Regions from separate parts of the Homo sapiens genome. Here regions 2 and 3 are each reported to be linked to region 1. Evidence: microRNA targets listed by miRTarBase, many of them from high-throughput screens and not tested one by one. Region 1 holds a microRNA gene; each other region holds the end of a gene's coding sequence.
The links. Region 1 holds the annotated microRNA hsa-miR-184 (UGGACGGAGAACUGAUAAGGGU, at 1,924-1,945, opposite strand). A microRNA usually pairs through its seed, bases 2 to 8, with sites in the 3' UTR of a target mRNA and lowers its output. Matches are read on the target gene's strand: a 7mer-m8 pairs with bases 2 to 8, a 7mer-A1 pairs with bases 2 to 7 and ends in A, and an 8mer does both.

Region 1 (3,342 bases):
CCTGAAGAAATGAGAGCTATGCTTTTGATTATTAATATTCTTATAATCCAAAGGATGATGCAGGATTTTTTAAATCTTTCCACATGTATGTTTTTGGACCAGTCCAAAAAAGAATTGGAAACACACTTATGCCGCATAAAGACAGAGTTATGAGGAACTATAAAAACAAAATAAAACCTTTGGAGAATCAACTGCAAAGACATGTATTCTGTTTTTATTATAGTTCTGAGCCCAACAGTGTCTCACCAGGTGACTACCTGAGATATCCAACATCATATGTCCACCAGAGGGTGGGGAACACTCAGCCCCTTTTTATCAACACCTTCACTGTCCAGCCAGCCCCTAACTGGCCCCTTTCTGTCTGAAGGAGGTGGCTGAGTCTCTGGGCCGGACTCTCCGCTCCTCCCAGCCGCCTCTGCCTATCCATCCCATGGCCACCTGAGCCGCTCTCCACACTCTTGAACCCAGAGCCAAGACACACAAGTGCTGAGTCTCATCAGTAACTGCAATCTCATGAAAGCACTCTTGGGCCTCAGTCACCTTGAAGAGCAGGAAAGGCTCTGAGGGGACATTCATTCCACCCATCATCTCAGGTTCCAGTTTGCTTTAAAGGAAACTGAGGCATCGTAAAAGTTAAAGACATGTGGAGGATCATACCAGAAGTTGAGAGCCCAGCCAATCTAAGTGCTGGGACTTTCACAGTTGTCAGGGGGCATTACAGCTGTATATTCAAAGCCTCAACTGTATCTTGCAATCACCTGGCACAGCTACAGTGCCCAGGCCACACCCTGGACCAATTAAATCAGAATCTCTGGGAATGAGATCCAGGCATCAGTATCAGATAGCCAAGCTTATATACTCCTGCATTAAAGTGAGAAGGCCCCCATGTGAACACTAAATGCCTTAATTCACATTATTTTTGCACGGTTCTCAAACCTACTCTTGCCCAGCCACATCCTGAAGATTCTGATGTAATTTGCCATGCATCAGGACCCTTCAAAACTCCCAGGTGACTCCAACAAGCAGCTAAGGCTGAGAACCACTGTGTTCATCTACCACCTTCATTTAACTTTAAAACTGTATTTACTCTTTAAGTAAAATCATAATATTTAATTGCAGAAAAGAAAAGAAAAAAGTACCTGTTCAGCTGAGATGCAATCCATTGCATGTTAATCTGTATTCACATTCCAGGAAATAGAAGCATTTGTAGTTACAGGAATTTTTATCTGTGGTTTTACATCTTTACACACAGGTGTATAGACTTGCTTATGTGTCAGTCCGTTACTGCAATGTGCCAATTAAGACATTTATTGAGTTTGATTTGGTATAAGTAATTATGAGTTATAAAAGATCATTCTGAATCAACAACGTAATAAATAACCATCTTTAATGTAATAGAATATAAGTTTAGTTAGAGTCATGAAACCTTCTGTCTCAGCACATGGTTCCTATAAACCGAAAAAGACAAAAGCATTTGGTGAGTAGCTGTCAGCTGAAGAAAATGTCTGGAAAGGGACTTTCCCTCAAATCAGACGGAAATTCCTGCTCTCCCTTTTTTTTTTTTTAAGCAAGAGTACCTAAAATTCCAAAAAGTCCTATACCCCTTTATTCACCTTATAAAGAAGTCTGTGGAATAAGCCCCCTTCCCTCACCAACCACCCAACCGCTTTTCTCAAGGGGAGACCCTAAACCCAGTCGCAGAGAGCACATTTTGAATAAGCAAAGTGGAGATCTCACTGACAAAACACAAAGGCTACCCCAGCATCCTCAGGCAGGGGGCGCATACCTGGGCCCCCTATGCCCAAGGTCTCCTCCTGGAATCCCCTGCTGTCCTCGGGCACCCAGAGCGGGAACGCCAGGTTTTCCCCATCACGCAAGTGCAGGCGGCGCGGGGGTTCCGGAGGCTGTGAGTGTCAATCACCTACCCTTATCAGTTCTCCGTCCAACACTTACAGTCACAAAGCTGGGCTGGAAAAGTGATAAGGGGACGTGACTGGCCGGCAAAGAAGTTTTGATGAAGCTTTGCAGGACAAGATGTAAATGGACGTTTGATTTCCCGGCGAGCCCTCCCCGCCCCCTCTCTGCAGTTCCTCCTCTGCCTCAAATTCAAAGCCCCTCTGTGCCCTTCTACTTTGCTCTGGCCTCTCGCCCCAGTCTCTCCCTCTGACACCTGGAGAGTCACTTATGTTTCTGCACACAGAAATTCAGACATGCAGCTCTGGACAGCTATGGAAAGTAATAGGTTCTTTGCATTAAAAAAAATCAATTAAAAATAGAAATTAATTTAAATTTTAAAATTAATAAATAAGCCGAAGTTAGTGAAGTCTTTACCCAGTGGCTCTTGCAGGTCTGAGGCCCCAGCCCAGCAGGTCCTGCTCCTCCCCAGGGCTCTGGGCTAAGCCCACACCCACATGCCATTCATAAAGTCCCTACAGCAAGTCTCCTCCTCCAACCAGGATTGGTCCTCCAGAGAGGCTGGCCCCAGGCCAGGACCCATCAGCCACAAATCTGCGAGCTGGATGTGTCCACTGTGCTGCGTGGCCTTGATGGGATTAGGCCAGGGTGGAGTTTGGTTCCAAAGGTAAGCGCGTTCTCATGTATCCAAGCTCTCTGCCCCATCATGTCAGATTCTTCCGTCTTAACTGTTTGACCTTCCACGCTGATTCATACAGAGTCTTTGAAAACCAAAAACTATTGACATGGCTTCAAATGTGGAGGTCTTAACATGATTCTGTGTATCGGAATGAAACCAAAGAAAACCCGTCCAGATTTCAGAAATGGATTTCTGTATAGTATTACACTGTGGGACGACCACCAACTTTGGATCCCATCTGCTTGCCACTTCCTGGTTGTGTAACCCTGAGAAAATTACTGAATCTCTCTGAGCCTTGATTTCCTGATATACTAAACAGAGATAGTACCTCCTTAACTCCCAGGATTGCTGTGGGAAGTAAGCGAGAAAACGGATGGAAAGAGCTTATGCTCACCCCTAGGTTTAAATCCCAGGTCAGCCACCTCCTGGTTACATAGCTTCAGCAGGTCTTATAAACTCTCCAAATCTCAGTGATTTATTCGGCAAAATGTGGGTTATAAAAGCTACCTCAAAGGGTTGTTTTGAGGATTAAAATATTCAATATAAGGTTAAGGGCTTGGTCTTTATAGTAAAACTGGTCTGGATTTAAATCCTGAATTTGTCATTTGCTGGTTCATTGACAGAGAATCACTCAGCCTCTCAGATCCGTTTCCAGATCTGCAAAATGGCTGTGATCACCCAAATTTACAGGGTTGTGGTAAAAGTTCAATTAGATGAGCTATAAAAAGCCCTTAGCATGGAGAATTTAA
Region 2 (3,000 bases), not on the chromosome of region 1:
GGGGTGGCGCAGGTGGATCCTTTTCCCAGGAATCTCTTGGTGCCCTGACTTGTCTAAGCTCCACACGTCTGTGTGGTAGGTGTGAGTGGCTGGAGAGATTATCACTCTAACCTCCCCAAGTAACCAGCAAGGAAATTCACATCCAGAGAGGGGTGCTGACTTGCTCAAAGTGGGACAGCTTGCAGGGCAGGGGCAGACCAGAACCCAGGTCTTTGGTCTCTGGCACCAGGTCATGTTATCGTGGGTGGCACTGAGCCTGCAGCTCTCCACTTGGGGTCTGTCTTGAGGGCTCTGAGGAACACAGGCAGAATGCTTAGCCCCTCTGGGGCCCCTCGGATGTTCCACTGTTTACTAGGGACCAGAACAGCCCCAGTCTGGAAAAAGCCCTTGGAGTGCCCTGGGGAGGGCGGTGGTGGCCGGGGCTCTGGCCCTGTGGGTGTCTCTGTAGCAGAGCAGCTGAGCTTGGGGGCCTGGCTGTTCCACAGGAGGGTGTGTGTGTGTGTGCACGCACACAGCATGTCGCATGGCGAGGTGGAAGAGGAAGGGCGGGAGAGATGAGTGAGTGTGTGCCATGATAAACTGCAGGTGGGACCAGCCTGTGGGCAGCGTCCCTCTGAGGGCAGCAAAAAGAGACGTCAAATTCAACCAGGGCAGTGTCACATCATGGACACGCTTTTGAACCAGCAAGACCAGTGGTCTGCCCCTCTTCACCAGTAGACCTCTCTAAGCCTCAGTTTCCACATCTGTGAAGAGAGGACATGTTCCCTCCCTCAGAGGGTTTCAGTGGGTAGTTGAGGTAATGGATGGACCTCAACCCACACGGTGCCTGCCGTGGGGTACAGGGGGCAGGAACTGCGCTGGGCTGGCTCCTCGGCACAGGACACAGGGCCTGGCATTATTTGGAACTGGGCTGAACGGCAGAGTGCCGCAGTGTTGGTGGGCAGGGCAAAGGCAAGAGTGAATCCCCCAGGCCACACCCTCCCCCTCCCCTAATCTGCATCACCATTAGCCAGGGCCACCTCTGGGACACAGCCTGGACCAGAGGCCCCAGGAGGGGCAGGGTGGGACCCCTGCCAAGGAACCACTGGTCGTGAGCTTGAAGCCCATCCACTCCCCTAGGGCCTGGGGCACTCGCCCCACCTTGCCTTGCCCTTCACACCTCCTCTCCCTCTCCCTGCAGGAGCACAGGCCACCACACACACCACCAGAGCCAGATCCAGAGCCCCTGAGCGTGGTCCTGTTAGGACGGCAGGCAGGCGCAAGTGGACAGCTGGAGGGGCCATCCTACACCAACGCTGGCCTGGACACCACGGACCTGTGACAGGGGCCCCCACTCTTCTGGACCCCTTGAAGAGGCCCTACCACACCCTAACTGCACCTGTCTCCCTGGAGATGAAAATATATGACGCTGCCCTGCCTCCTGCTTTTGGCCAATCACGGCAGACAGGGGTTGGGGAAATATTTTATTACCAATGTATACTGTGACAGTTTGTAGCCAAAAACTGCGGCTGGAGGGGTGGGGACGGGACACTGAGTGGTCACAAGGGACTTGGGCTCACAGCACAGGGGGGACAAGGGGCTGGAGAGGGTGGCCTTTAAAAGACAACTGTGGTTATAGAATGAGCTCTCTGTCCTGTCCCCAATACCCAAGAACACCGGTCACCCAGGATGCCAGGGCCCAAGAGCTTCTGTGAGCCCAGCTGTGACCTCCAGACCTTCCTGAGACCCTCTGGCCTTTCTGTGACTCTCTCTCAGCTGAGCCCCCAGGGTACTTCCTGTAGCTGTCTTTGGCCTCTCTGGGAATCTCAAACCTGTGACTCAGTGGGAGAGGGGATGGGGCTGGAACCAGGCGGGTGGGAGATAGGAACTGGGGAAGGACCACCAACAGCATGCAAGAGACGCCCCGGCCACGGGGCCAGCCACTGCGTGGAGACGCTCACACTCGTTCTACCTCACGTGCTGCCCGAGACCTCACATTCAGAGACGTGCCCACTCGCGGGTCTCACACACCGATCCTCACCCACTTGAAGCTTCTGCCACTCAGACTTGTATGCAGTCTCTCCCTGTTCTGGGGATCTGGCCCCACCGGAGACCACAACGCACCAGTCTAGACATCTCAGGAGCCTGCCCCAGCTCTCAGGGGGTGGGAGGTGAGGGTGCTGAGCAGGCCCCCGTGGTCGCCCAGTGTGACCGGGAGTAGAGCTGAGGGCTGTGAGGGGACAGTGGGGCGTCAGGGCTGGCCGGGTTCGTGGCCTCGTGGCCACGAGGGAGCTTGGTAGAAGGGGTTCTTCTGTATTTGTGATGGGAGGGGCTGGAAAGACGGGGACGCAACAGCCCTAGAGGCTGCACAACCCCTCGGAGGCCTGTGGCACGCAGAGGGGACCCCTTCTAGGGGCCTGTGATCAAGAAGGGAGCCTGAGAAGGTCGGAAACTCGGGCGTACAAAATGGGGGCAGATCACTCGGCCGTGGGTCCCGCCCGCGAGCAGCACCGCGGCCGGCGCACACTCTGCAGCAGCGCGCGGAACAGGCCGGGCGGACGCTTGGCGGCGCCATCTGGGGGCGCGGTGCGCACCGAGCCCGAACGGCCGGGGCCGGCACGGGCGGCGGGCGGCGGCGCGGGCGCCCCTTGGCGGCCGTGCTCCTCGATCTGTCGCTCCAGATGCTTCTGGATGGCCATGCCCAGCACCTCCACCTCCATGGCGGCGCCGTATACCTCCCACGTCATGCCCTTCTCGTCCCAGCTCACGTCTCGCACGGGCTCAGCCGGCTCCGGGGGCGCTACAGCGGCCGCCAGCGCTGAGCCGGGCCGCACCCGCACTTCGGGGAAGGCGGGCGGCGCGGCGGCTTGAGGTGTCATGGGCCCAGTGGCCACGGAGCGCGTCTCGGCGGCGCCCAGCGACACCTGCAGGCCCGCATCTCGGCGCGAGGGCGGGCTGGGCGCGCGCGGCGCCGCCTGGAAGCTGAAGGCCGAGCCCCCAGCGCCGTCCTGCGGAGACATG
Region 3 (3,000 bases), not on the chromosome of region 1:
CTATATGCCCAGACATGGGTTAGGTGCTTGGAGAGTAACAGCCAAACTTGATCCACGGTCCAGCTCCCAAGGGGCTTTCTTCCTAGAGAAGCCAACACAGCCAGACCAAGTAGGGGCTGGTGCAGGGGGTTACCTCGTGAGCTTAAAGGATCTTAAGGATAGCTGAGTGAGGCAGGAGCTCAGGACCAGGCCCCTCTGAGAGTAGATCTTATAGAAGTGGCAGCTCAGCCTTCCCACTCCTTGACCCTTCAGAGGCCCAGGGCTGCTCTCTGAATTTCCCCACTCTCTTGTGCTTCTCAGGAATTCACCGTCCCCCAGCTCCGTGGCCAGCAGCGACTCAGGAAGTACAGATGAGATCCAGGATGAGTTCGAGCGCGAGGCGGATGTGGAGCCCATGGTCAGCTGATGACTGAGGCCCTGCGAGCCTGGTGGTCTTGGTGATGGGGCCCTGCCACCTCTCCTCATGGGGCCAGGAAGGCCCCTCGGAGTGGGGTTCGAAGCCACACCACACAGACTTTCTCTGCCCTCCCTTCTCTGGAGGCCCTGAGGGACTGCTGCTTCCTTCCTTCCTTCCACACCACCAACGGGTGCCCCGTCTCCATCCCCCACCCACCCAAGGAATGGTGCTGTCAATTTCTATTGTTCTCCACATTACAAATGCAGACTTCTGTGCGGACTTTGCAGTGTTAACTGTGCCTTCTCCCTTAAGCTGAGCCACTTTGAGCTCCAAAGAATTATTCCTAGCAGGTGTTTTTATACAGAACTCTAAGCTGAGGGCCGGGCCAACCGGCCGTGGTGTAATGTGGTTTCTGCCGTCCGTCCCACCTGCTCCTCTGATTGGCCATGGGCTATGCCCTCCCTTCCTCCTGAGCCAGCCCAGACTCGGCCTGGAGCTTGGGGTGCTCTGCCAACCCCCAGGAAGGAGCCGCTTGCCTCTGTGAGCTTTCTAGGCCTGGGTAGGGACCACCCCAATTTTCTCACTCCCTGAAGGAGAGAAAGGTGGAAGGAAGGGAAGGAGGACACATTTTAATTTTTTGGGGGGATCGAGTGGCAAAGTTGAAGGGACAAGGCACTGTGAGGGGAAGGCAGAGCCTCACTGTGTTTAAACTACTATGCAAAAAACAAAACAAACAACAAAAGCAGCTTGCCTTATATCATTGTGGAAGGCAGGACCTCTCCTGGGCTCCTGGCTTCCCCCTGGAGCTGGGAGAGAGGCCGGGGTTAGGGTGATCTGTGTGGCAGCACTGACTGGGTAGTGTGGGTTTGGCCGAGGTTGGTCATGAGGCTGGGGTTCCCGCAAGGCACTGGCCTCCCTGACCGCTTGCTTCCTTCCGGACCTCTGGGTTCAGGGCGGGGGCGGAGGGATCCTTGATTTCCCTGATAACTTGATGTTCTTCCCTCCCTCGCCAGCCAACAATAGAGGCTTAGAGATCTGTAATTTCTCTGTGAGAAAGTCTGAAGGGGCCAGGCCTGGTCTCTGCTCCCTTCTACCCGCCTTGGGTTAGGACTGTCCGGCAGTTGCCTGCTTTTGGCTGCTGGCAGGAGAGAAGCAGGGTGGGCTGCTGGCAGTGCAGGAGCTGGAGTGAGGGCCATCCTCTTTCTGCTCCTCGACACACGCAAGCCGCTCTCAGCAGTTCCCTCGACTGGCCAGTCGGGGTATTGATCTGAGCCAGCATCCCCCAAGACTTGAATGGCTTGAGTGGGACTGCGTTGAAGGGCACTGTGTGGCCCCCTTCCAAATCTCAGCTTGGAGCCAGCTGAGCAGGCTTTGCTTTATTATTATTTTTTAAGCCTACTGCAGTGGGTCTGTTGCCAATTTTAATTTTTTATTGTCCCAGGAGCTCCCTCTAGTGGTCAAGGTAGCAAAATGTGCCCAAGGACTAGAACTTGGGTCCCTCTGCCTTGCCTGGAGGCAGAAGGAGGGGGCTCTGGGTTTGACTGGGATTGTGGTCCCCAGGGGTCCGTGGCCTTTAAGGCTCTTCTCTCTTTTCTGTTTCCCCCACCTGTGTTACAGTCTTAAAAATACTGTACATAAAAGATATATGTAGAGAGAGAGAGAGAGCGTGAGAATGTGTTAGTGACTATGTGTGATGTAATTTATCACGATTTGGTGGCCTTCGTCATGAGTTTTTTCCTTTGTTTTCTTTTGCTGGGGGCACCTCCCACGGGTCCCCTGTGGCAGTCTGGCTGTGACACTTCCATAGTCAGCATCTCTTGTTAGCCAAACAGTTCCCTTTGACAGGTACTTGGAGGGACAATGGTTTTGGAAGAGAGACGGCCCTTCTCTCTCCTCACTCACCCTTGTTCTAAAGGTTACAGGGTTCAAACATACCTGATTCTTGTTGTTATTGTTGTTGAATTTTTATTTTAACCAAAGGTTATCAGAGCCAGTTGGGCTTGGACCTCAGCTGCTAAAAAGATTTTCCGTTTCCTCGAGGGCAGGAAAACATCCACCCTCGTGGGTCTCCTCCGTCCAGGGCCGAGGGAGGCATTGGACAATGTGGTATGGGAGTTTCGTGGGCAGCGTGGAAGCCGGCCCTGGGTTGTTCCCCAAGGTGGTGGGAGGGTGACAGATATATCTTTAGACTTAAGACTGTAAGGCAGCAGTGTTAGCATGGGAGTAACTAAGGTTACTGTGGTTATCGGTGTCCGGCGGTATTATTTTTACTTTCCTCCTTGTATACATAGGTCATTTGTCTTTGAGGACTAGGGTACTCTAGGGAGTTTGAAAACTGCAGGAGCCAGAAAGAGATCCTGGCCTGAGAGTCCCTTCTGGCTGGCTTTTAATATCTGCTCTCCTCTTGGGAGTGAGGACTTGGGGCAGGTGGGTAGGAGAGGGAAAGCCAGAGTGTGATGGGCCTGCCTCCTGGGCTGGTTCCTGGGTCCGGCCTGCCTGCCTGCCTGCCTGCCTCTCCACCACATGCTTTTTTCAGTTAATGTCAGTGGGCCCTGCTTGTCCCCTCACCATGAGCCCACAGCTTGCCAAGAAAGACCCCAACG

Region 2: miRTarBase lists GPRIN1 as a target of hsa-miR-184. The part of its 3' UTR that is shown has no 7-base or 8-base seed match.
Region 3: miRTarBase lists IFFO2 as a target of hsa-miR-184. Seed matches in the 3' UTR shown: 7mer-m8 at 816-822 and 8mer at 2,469-2,476.

What each region holds. Positions count from the first base shown.
Region 1 is chr15:79,208,443-79,211,784 of GRCh38, reverse strand. MIR184 (microRNA 184) reads right to left here and starts at 1,997; the gene lies at 1,914-1,997. The region is part of intron 1 of ANKRD34C-AS1 (ANKRD34C antisense RNA 1); the gene reads left to right.
Region 2 is chr5:176,594,352-176,597,351 of GRCh38, forward strand. GPRIN1 (G protein regulated inducer of neurite outgrowth 1) reads right to left here. Exons shown (of 2, transcript NM_052899.3): 2 at 1,451-3,000. The coding sequence ends at 2,457. CDHR2 (cadherin related family member 2) reads left to right here. Exons shown (of 32, transcript NM_017675.6): 32 at 1,181-1,473. The coding sequence ends at 1,321. Among named protein-coding and RNA genes, the nearest start is that of GPRIN1, 14 kb to the right of the region's middle. RefSeq lists silencers at 2,524-2,683, 2,824-2,913.
Region 3 is chr1:18,905,967-18,908,966 of GRCh38, reverse strand. It overlaps IFFO2 (intermediate filament family orphan 2), which reads left to right. Exons shown (of 9, transcript NM_001136265.2): 9 at 301-3,000. The coding sequence ends at 406. Among named protein-coding and RNA genes, the nearest start is that of ALDH4A1, 4.9 kb to the right of the region's middle.